Linked DNA regions of Homo sapiens: region 1 is linked to region 2. The links come from fine-mapping of genetic effects on gene expression. A gene starts in region 2. The other region holds a variant in brackets. All regions are shown on one strand. Distances are between the middles of the regions.

What was found. PIP is the estimated chance that this variant, and not a neighbour inherited with it, causes the effect.
Region 1: its variant is fine-mapped to the expression of FAM230C in testis (GTEx, PIP above 0.99).

What each region holds. Positions count from the first base shown.
Region 1 is chr13:18,220,333-18,225,710 of GRCh38, forward strand. FAM230C (family with sequence similarity 230 member C) reads left to right here. Exons shown (of 8, transcript NR_027278.1): 4 at 2,163-2,249. Among named protein-coding and RNA genes, the nearest start is that of FAM230C, 28 kb to the left of the region's middle. The variant A/G (reference allele first, on the strand shown) is at 2,100.
Region 2 is chr13:18,193,124-18,198,481 of GRCh38, forward strand. It overlaps FAM230C (family with sequence similarity 230 member C), which reads left to right and starts at 2,174. Exons shown (of 8, transcript NR_027278.1): 1 at 2,174-2,288. It also overlaps the pseudogene LOC124903223.

The sequences.
Region 1 (5,378 bases), 27 kb after region 2:
TTCTGATCAAATCACAGGTTCTGAAACACTAAGGGAGGCACTAAGTAGGACAACGTGGTGCCTGCGTGTCATAGCTGGGTCTCCTCAAGACATGGATCAAGTCCAGTAAGAATTGGGGAGACGCTTTAGAGTCTTGATGGAGTTATCACCACAAGCCCTCTGAGCTACACACATTAGGGATCATGACCATTAAGTACTCAAATTACCATTTGGTTGTTATCCGGGTATCTGTCGTCCTTGTGGCAACCCTCTTGTGAAGCTGGTGTGGACAGCCTCAGTGCTGGAGCTGTGCCTCCCTTCTGAGTGGACCCTTTCTGTGTTAGCAGGTGGGTACAAGCGTGGGGGTCAGCACACTCAGTGGATTTACACACACAGCATTAAAGAGTAAGGCTGCGCTTTGTTTATACATTTTCAATAAATGATGATCTTCATAACATAAAATCAATGATGTAGTACACTAGAATACTGTCCCTAGTATTGAATCTTGTCTCTCAACAAAGGGTTGCTTAAAGTCACATGACAGATTCCATTCAACTGATGACACATGCTGTAGCAGCAGTTAAAGCAGTCATTTGAAAAGGCTTTTACTATAAACTTATGTGTGAGCCTGAAGTGGGGGATAAAAGAGGTGATTAGCTACCCTGTGCCATGTTTCTATTATGTGTGTGGTGGAGGAAAATTACACAGGAAGGTGATGGAGAGAACAGAGCAAAGGATTGGACAGGTCCATTGAACCCATAAGACTATGTTGAGGTTAGTGAATGAGACTGGTCATTTTAGGTCAAATTTTACCCAGAGCTGGTGCAACCACTGCCCATTCTTAGCCAGACCTTATTGCAGGTAGCTCTGATCAATAGTCAAGGAGGCAGTGGGGGTTGCAGACTTAATTCATTAAATCACCAAAGCACCAGCCCACATGGCCACTTTTCCAGTTAATTCACAGTAGCTTGCATATTCAGGTTTGATCATTGGAAGCGAAGTTACTCTTTGCAGACCCATCTTTTGACAATCATTTTGCAGTGTCAGAAGGTCTGAGCAGCCTCGGGAGGCAAGCAGTCCCTGGTCCCTCAGTGTAGTCACTGGAGGAGACAGTCACTGAGAGGCAGCTGGCAGGGTGAAGGGAAAGGGGAGGCAGGCCACAGAGATGACAGCCTTTAAGCTGTCATACTGGGGAAGTCAAGGATCTGAAAGAGGAAGGAGAATTCTTTATCATTAAGGACCTGTCCTTATCTCAGGCATTTCCTCCAGAGCATCACCTTTGTCCACCCACACACCTTGGGCTAGGAGGACTGGGGAAAGACAGTGAAGGGCCTCTTGGGTCTCTGGCACAGGGCGTGATGAAGAGGTGGCAGTTTTTCAGGAAACTCTCTCTCTAGGGAACCAAATACATTTCCCATCTCAGGTCCTTCACTCAGCGGGGTTGAGGTTCTGCTCGTCACTTATCATCTCTGAATGTCAGCACCCTCAAGTGTAAAATCTCAGCCACAGCCCCTCCTCTGCACCCCCTGCAGGGCTGATGTTCTCCATAAACCATAAGGCATCATGCCCACGGAAAAGCTGAACAGGAAAGCATGCTCCACTGCCCCGGAGCCATCCAAGTTCCCCCTCCATATTCCACCACTGCTAAGTGTCCAGCTTATTCCTCCTGGCATGTAGTAAACACTTAGAGAACATTACTGAAGTACCAGTCCTCTCTAAGGTTTTCCTGTATTTAGTGATTTTTTAGCCCCGTACTGTGATACTAAGAAGTAGGGCCTAAATAGGGCCTAAAAAGTATTGCTAAAATTACATTATGACAGTGCAGAGAACTGAGGGCAGAGGGAGGACATGAGATTTCTAGGTCCACATGGCTTAGTGGAATTTGAATCCGGGCCCCCACTCTGCACCAGCCCTGCACTCACAGTCATCCTGCTGTGTTCTCCTCTCCAGGAAGGCACTGCCCACACAGTCTGTCTGATAGAGGTGTTGAGTGCTCACTGAACTCCGTGATCTTCCTGAAACCCAACTTTGATTCAGTGGGCTCTGCTTGGAAGCCTGTAAAGAAAAACATCATAAGTTTAAACTTAGAACAGATTATCACTGTTTTCCCTCTGGTCTTC[A/G]GTCAGCAAGATGTCAACAGCCCTATCTATTGTAAATGCGTTAACCAGCATCTTCTCTGATAGAGAATACAAGAAGATATGCTGTGCACACCAACCAGTGTCGGAGACCTCATGGCTCCCCGGTAAAGAAGAAGATGTACCCACAAGAAGGTACTGTGGAAGTTCATTAATTAAGTTGCTTCAAGAATTGCAATTGCGGGGAGTATTCAGTGTCCCATATGTAAGAGGAAACTATGAAGAGACTAAGCCATATTTTTTAATGTGTCAGGATTCTAATTTGCCTGGTCAGTAAATATTGCTACAACCACAAAAGTAAATATCTACTTAAAAGTCAATTGTGGTTCATGTTTAATGATAGACAATGTTTCAAGCTAATGTCTAGAACTTACCTGGTTGTTAAACATAAGCATAGATCTCCCTGAAAGAGTGGTGCTATATTATTATTTTTCAATTAATATATTTCTTTAGAGAGTTTTAAATTGACATAAAAACTGAGCATATGGCCAGGCGTGGTGGCTCACGCTTATAAACCCAGCACTTTAGGAGGCCAAGGCAGGCGGATCATCTGAGGTCAGGAGTTGGAGACCAGCCTGGCCAACATGGTGAAACCCCATCTCTACTAAAAATACAAAAAAATTAGCCCGGTATGGTGGCAGGCGCCTGTAATCCCAGCTACTCAGGAGGCTGAGGCAGGAGAATCGCTTGAACCCGGGAGGCAGAGGTTGCAGTGAGCCAAGATCATGCCATTGCACTCCAGCCTGGGTGACAAGAGTGAAACTCCATCTCAAAATAAATAAATAAATAAATAAATAAATAAATAAATAAAAATTGAGTATATAATACACGAAGTTCCCATATTATTCTGTCTCCTCATCCTCACTTCCTAATTTCACCTATTAGTAACATCTTACATTACTGTGGTACATTTGCTAGAATAATGAGAAAATATTGATACATTATTATCTAAAGTCTACATTTGCATAATGTTCATTCTTTCTGTTATACATATATATGAATTTTGAAATATTTAAAACATTATGTTCACCCTTATGGTCTCATAAAGAAAATGTTCACTTCCCTAAAAATCCTCTCTTCTCATTAATCTCTGTCCTCTTTCTCCAGAAACCATGGCAACTATTAACATTTTTACTATCGCTTCAACTTTGCCTTTTCCAGAATGTCGTATAGTTGGAATCATATATTATGTAGTTTTTTCAGATGAATTTATTGCACTAAATTGATGTACGCTTTAGCTGCTTTCATGTCTTTTTTATGCCTTAATGGCAAAAAATGGCACATTAAATCACCAAATAATATTGCATTAAATGAATTTTTGTCTTTTTATTCGCCTGTTGAAGAATTCGGTAGATTTCATGAGAGAAACCATCTGGGCCTGGTGCTTTCTTTTTCGGAATGCTCTTAATGTGAATTCAACTTATTTAATAGACATAAGTTTATTCACATTAGGATTCTAGCGTGACCTTGGGAAGATTGCCTTTCAAGGAATTGATAAATTTCACTGAGGTTATCAAACTGCGGTCATAGAACTGTTCATAATATTCCTTTTAATGCCTAACAGTTCAGTAGAGATGGCTCCTCTTTTATTTCTGAAATTGGTCATTTGTGTTATCTTCTTTTTCTTGGTTAGCCTGCATATCAATTCATTCATTGTAATGAGCATATCAAAGAACCAGCTTTTGGTTTTATTGATTTTCTGATGATTTCAGTGTTTTAATTTTATTGATTTCTGTGATGTTGTTTATTACTTTTACTTGCTTTCCATTGCATTCCTCTATTTTCTACAGTTCCCTAATTGAAACATGATATTACTGATTTTAGATCTTGTGATTTTTAGTATATTACATCCAATGCTATAGATTTCCCTCTAAGGACTGCTTTTGCTACATCCAGAAATCTTGCCAAGTCACATTTTCTTTTAATGTAGTTAAAAGTATTTTTAATTTTCTATTGAGACTTCTTCTTTAACCCATGAGTTATTTAAAACTGCATTGCTAATTTGCAAATATTTGGGGATTTTGTGGCTCTTTTACAGTTGTTGATTTTTTGTTGTCAGGTATGTGTTGCAAAAGCAGTCATCTACCTCATCTTGCCACCACCCAAGATGGCCCAGGATGTGGGCTCTCCCTGAGTGAATCTTTGGCAATCTGCCAACCTGATGTGGTCGGCCTCCTTCTTTAGTCTGAGCTTGTCTTCTGCTTAGAAAGGGCCATTCTCAGTTCTGGCAGGGAGTTTTCCCAACATTGAGAAGGTGGCATTCTTACTCCCCAGTGCAGCCTGCACCTCTGACCGGTGGTCAGCAGACAGGACAGAGGTCCTCATTAGACAGAGTTCAGCGGGGTCTCTGACCAAAGGGCATCTTCAGAGTCTGCACCTACCCACTGTGACCATGGGCAGGCTCTGAGTCCTAAAGCAGGAGGAACCGTGCGACCATCCTGATTGGAAATTTGTGAGGATCACCATGTTACTCAAGTAAGGTCTTTGGAAAGTGTCGTATTACTACTGTTTGTGAACTTCTTGTTGGTGGCCTGGCTGAGCCACACACTTTATGAAAACCAGGACCCCTCAGCTGGTGTGGGTGTCTATGCAGCCTGAGACCCTCATGTGAACAGCCTCGTGGTAGCTGTCTTTGCCCCTTGCCACCATCAGTGCCTCCTTGTTCCTGGGCACTGCTTTCTCTGATGGTGCTCCATTGTTTTCCTGCACCTCAGTGTCTACAGCTGGATGTCTCTTCTGCAATCTAGGTGAGGGGGCATCAATAACAGTTCTGCTGTGGCACTGCCCTCCTTCTTAGCTTGTCTTGCTCCGTCTTAGGCTCCCTCAAAGATCCCACCCTTCAGGTTCTTCCACAAGTTTCTTATTGAAATCCGAGCAGAAAACTATGACCAATATGACCAATCGTATACCCACTGAAGACATGAATGTAGAATTAAAACAATTCTCCATGGACTCTACCATATAGATCCCTAGAAGTAATTTCTAAAAAAAAAAAAAAATCAAGGAAGATGTAATAGTTTTCCATAAATTAGAATACCCTACATGTACAATTAAATGAAATGGCTAGTATAGTCTTGAAACCAAAACCAGATAAGGTAAATTAAATTCTGTGATATTTTAAAATACTGTAAATTCTGACTAATGTGAGTTAATCTCAAAATATGAAATAGTAGATTAACATTGAAAATGCAATAAATAAAATTAGCTACCTCAAGAGTTTAATGGAAAAAAATGTGATTATTGCAATAGATTCAGGAAATTCGT
Region 2 (5,358 bases):
ACAGAAAGTATACATCAATCTCAATTTTTTTTAAAAAGGCAGATGGTTTTACAGTTGTTTTATCAAAACTCAAAGAACAGGAAAGCCCACATTATTTCAGCAAAGTCAGACCTTTTAAACAGATGATAGCTGCCCAAGTCATTTTTATGAAACTTCTTTATATCAAAACCTAAGTCTAAAAAGAAAAGTGTTGACCTTGATACGGGCTGTGTTAGGCAGAGATTTCAATGAAGTCCTCTCTGAAGAGGTGACATTTGATCTGAGACCTGAAGCACCAGAAAGAGGCAGCCAAGCCAGGAAGAGGCAGGAATGGGAAGGTCTAGGGAAAGACTGGTCCTGGCAGGCGGAACTGCAGTGGCAAAGGCCCAGCGGTGATCAGGAGCTTGGCATTTGCAAAAATAGTGTGTGTGACTGGACAGCGTGAGCAAGTGGGCAGAGGAGGAGATCGTGATAGGGTGTGCACTGGTCAGGCCACCTAGGTCCTGGAGCCCACAGTGAGAAGCATGGGCTTGACTCTGAGGGCAAAGGAGAGCCACGGAGAGTTTGGGTAAGGGGGAAAATTGGCATTTAATTTTATAGCTTTTTGAAGTTTGTTTTGTTTTCTTAGAAACAAGGTCTCAGTCTGTTACCCAAACTGGAGTGCAGCTCAAAATATTTTCCAATTTATCTTGTGATTTTTTTTGATCCAATGATTTAGAGGTGGGTTGTTAAATTTTCACATATTTTCAGATGTCCAATATTTCTTACTGTTGTTAGTTTCTAATTCTGTTTCAGTCAGATAACTTATTTGTTTTCCCTGTCTCTCCTGTCTTCTGATCCTGTTTTTCCATTGACTACCATTTTTAAAATCAACTTATTTCAGTGTGTCATTTACAATCCTATTTTAATTTTTTGCTCTTTCTCTGAAGTGGTTGTTCCAGGGATTATAATGTGCTTTTCCATTTTTCCAACGAATGAAGAACAAAGTGATCGACTTCTTGCCTCTGCCGGGGCTCTGAAGCGCTGCCCCGAGGCGGTGGATGGAGGGTGTCAGGCGTGACATCAAGAGCTCTGCAGCCAGGGCCTGGGACAACCTCCCGCTCCACCTCCCCGGAGCCTCGCAGCCAGCATCCCCAGCGGCCCGTGCGCCCCGGCCAGGCGGGACCTCAGCGCTGTGGCGGCCGCAGACCTCACCTGGGCAGGCCCCGGGCTGCATGCGGACCGCCGGGCGCCCAGGACCCTAGAGGCAACCAGCGGGCTGGATCCGCACAGCGGCCATGGGGAATGGATGGTGTACAGGGGACAAAGCTACACACGTCTTTCATTTTGGAGGGGGGAAAAAAGAAAAAACGGAAATGAAAGATAGAAAATGTGTGGGCTCTCCGTCCTTTCCTTTGCTCCTGAGCGCTCTCTGGGGTGGGGGGCTCAGCGAGCTTCAAGAGGTGGCCGAGATTCCCCCACCTCGCCCCCAGATCCCCGGGAGAGGTCAGCACGGCCCCTCCCGTGGGTGTCACAGAGACCGATGCGGGTCCCGCTCCCCGGGAAGGAGTGGGTCTGGGTCCAGTCCACAGGATCCCCTCGCGGATGCTGACGCAGAATGGAGTTGAGGTGGGGGCAGCGCTGGACCCCAGGGTCCCTCCCTGCCTCCTGGGGAGCCCGGTGACCCAGGCAGCCCTGGTGAGGCCGCAGGAGTCTGGGCCCTAGCGACGCCCCCGGGCTCCCACAGGACGAATGTAGACGGTGAGGCCAAGGACGCCCTGCTGCCCTCGGGACTGTCCCTCCAGCCCCCAGCTTTCCGTGGCTATTGGGCCCCCTCTGCAGAGGGGCAGGGGAGCCCACCCTGGATCCTGAGGCGCCGAGCTTGAGGGACCCCAGAGCTCCAGCCAGGCCGCTTTCTTTGAGGATGGTGAAGCTGAGGTCCCGAGGAGGGCAGGGGCAGGTCCCGGGCGCTCCTCAGGCAAAGGGAGCCGATTTAGGGGCTGGGGTCACAGGAGGGGCTTCTGCGACCTCTAGGGCCCTAGAGCCCGGGAGGATGACAGACTGGGGGCCTTTCTTCCACCCCTGGGGCTGGGCAGACGCTCAGCCTGTGCAACCCGAAGCTGCTTCTGCCCAGTCCCAGCCGCGGCCCCTTTAAGAGGGGGTGGTGCTTCAGCCTGGCGCCAGGGACGCTGCCAGCATGCAGGCCCCGAGGGAAGCCGAGACTGCGCTTCGTGCGAGGCCCGGGCAGCATCGGCGGCGTGGTCAGAGCGAGTCTCGGAGAAGATGTGGTGGCTTCCGTTTGTTGGTGGAGGAGGTGGCAGGCCTCGGCGGTAAGTGGAGGGGGATGAACCCCACCTGGAACCCTCTGGGTCTCCCTACTCCTTCCCGGCCGCTCCCTGCTTTCGGGCCCTGACTTCTAAGTGGGCATCTGGGCCCGAGTCGTCAGCGTTGGGGCGGTTGTGGGATCCTGGCCTCTGCAGCGTCCACACCCCCGCCGGGAAGGCTATGCCCCGGTCCGACCCACGTCCAGCCTATAGGAGCGCCCTGGCCCAGAGCCGGCGGTGAAGCGCTGGACTGGGTCCCTCCGAGCCCCACGGGCCTCTGAGCTGGGGTCTAGGGTTATTTTTTATGCCTCAGGACCTTTAGAAAGAGACCTCGCTAGAGCAGGGGACATCTGTAGTTTCAATTCTTTGAGGAGTTTCCAGCTATTTAACTGTTTTCCATGGTGTGTACCCTAATTTTCATTTCCACCTACAGTGTATGAGTTCCCGTTTCTCCAAAACCAAACCCCCATTCCAATTTTTTTTGTTTTTGTTATTTCGAGACGGAGTCTCGCTCTGTCTCCAAGGCTGGAGGGCAGTGGCGCCATCTCGGCTCACTGCAACCTCCACCTCCCGGTTTCAAGCAATTCTCCTGTCTCAGCCTCCTGTGTAGCTGGGACTACAGGCGCCCGCCACCACGCCCGGCTAATTTTTGTATTTTTATGTTTAGTAGAGACGGGGTTTCACGATATTTGTCAGGCTGGTCTGAAACTCGTGACCTCAGGTGATCCACCCGCCTTGGCTTCCCAAAGTGCTGGGATTACAGACGTGAGCCACGGCTCCCAGACCCTCCTATTTTTAAAAAATTTTTCTAGGAATATTCAATAAGTGTGAGACTATCTGCGTGTGGTTTTGAATTACAGTATTCTAATGAATAGTTAATTTCGAGGACCTTATCTCTTATCTGTTGTTCGATTTTATATCTGTGCAGAATTGTCTCTTTAGGTTATTTGCGAAATATTAGATTGGATTCTTTTTCTACTTTGTACTCTTTTTTGTGTACACGTTAGTTGACAACTCCTCGTGAATTACATGATTGCCTGAAATTTTTGCATAATCTATGGGATGCTTTTTTATTTGGAAAGTAGTTTTCTTTGCCATGCAGAAACTTTTCACGTTGATGTAGTCCCATATTTTTTTTTTTTTTGCGTTTTATGCGTGTCATAATGGTCACCCATATTAGAAAATATGCATCAGTAACAAAGCATTTAATTGTCAGTGAGGTTTTTCTTCCAGGGTGTTTGTTTCTTTTCCTCTTTGCAAAGGTTAACAGAGATTCAAGTGACCCAAAATATATGCTCAACCTGTGTTTTACTTAAGTAAACACAGTAATTTTTTAAAAAACATTTTGTGGTTTATGGTATTTTGTTTTGGCCTTCAGTTGATGGGGGGGGCGGTTGATTTTCATACATCGTGTAAAATAAGGGTCCTGTTTCTCGCTTTTGCATCCGGATATCATTTTTCTCAAAGCTATTCATTGATCAGACTCTGCCTTCCACATTGTGGTGTTCTTTATCAAAGTCAGTTGACTGTGTCCATATTTGTGTTGTTTTTGTCCTCCCTGTTTTTGTCCATAGTTCTAGGTATTTCTTTTTATGCAAGTACCATATATCTACTGCATAACTACAACTTGGCAATTTAATTTGATATCAAGGATTGTGGGTTCTCACTTTGATTGTATTTCTCAGGATTCCTTTAGATATTCATTGCTTTTGTGGTTCCCTGTGATTTTTAGCACTATGTATTTATTTCTGTTAATTTTTTTACAACATAAAGGGCCATAATTAGGGGTACATTTTTATACATATAAATTGGGTAATGATCAAATCAGGGTACTTAGGATCTCTATTCCCTCATACAGGTATTATTTTTGTGTAAAGAGAACATTCAAAATTCTCCTTGCTCTTTAGAAAAATGTAATACGGTTAAGTCCAGTCACCAGGCTGAGGAGAACACTCAGATTTATTCTTTTAATGTTAAGATAACTTTGTTTCCATAACCAATCCTTCTCCATTCCCCTTCTGTCTCCCAGACTCTGGTAACCAATATTGTGCTTTCTACTTCTTTAAGATAAACATCTTAAGATTTCACATGAGTGGTATCATGCAGTGTTTGTCTTTCTAGGCCTAGCTCATCACATTTATCATAATGTTTTCCAGGTTCATCTGGGTTGCTCTAAATGACACTGTTTGATTATTCTGATAGCCGAAGAATATTCCCCAGTGTATGTATATGAGAGTTTCTTGATCTCTTTATCTGTGGGTGAACAGGTAGGTTGAATATATAGCCAGTAGTGGGACTGCTAGATGGTATGGTATTTCCTTTTTTTTTTTCTATTGTTTGCAGGACCCCCAACTGTTTTTTATAGTGTTAATACCAATTTACATTTCCACAAACAGTCCCCCTTTCTGGAAATTCATACCAGGAATTTTATTTTTAAATATTTTAATCTTTTTGTGATGTTCATTCTAGTTGGAGTGAGATAAGATCTGAGAGTGGTTTTGATCTACATTTTTCTCATGAGTAGTAATGTTAACCACGTTTTTATAAATGTTGAATCTGTTTTCTGTCTTCTTTGCACAAATATCTACTCAGGTTATTTGCCCAATTTTGGTCTGGTTATTTCTCTGTTGTTTTGTTTTTTTGCCAGCCGTTAGTGTTACTGGCTTGTGCCTTTTCAAAAGTAACCTGTTATCCACTGTATGTTTGCCCAAACTTTTCTTATAAGTTTTAGTATGCCTTTTCATTTTGTTCGTTGTTTCTTTCCTTTTTTGGGCACAAATTCTTCAGTTTGATGCGGTCCCACATGTAATTTCTTGGTTAGTGTGCTATTGTTTACTAATCAAGAAAAAACAAAATCACTGCCAAAGCAGTCCATTGTCAGTGATTTTTCCCTTGTATTTTTGTTACTTTTTGCAAACCGTGAGCATACATCCAAGTTTCCCTAAATATACATACACTCGAGGTTGTGTTTATAAGAGCTTTATGGTTGCAAGTTTTGTGAATTATTTCTGTATTATTTAGTACCACACTTTTTGTATTATTTAGTACACTAAATATATTTTGTATTATTTAGTAC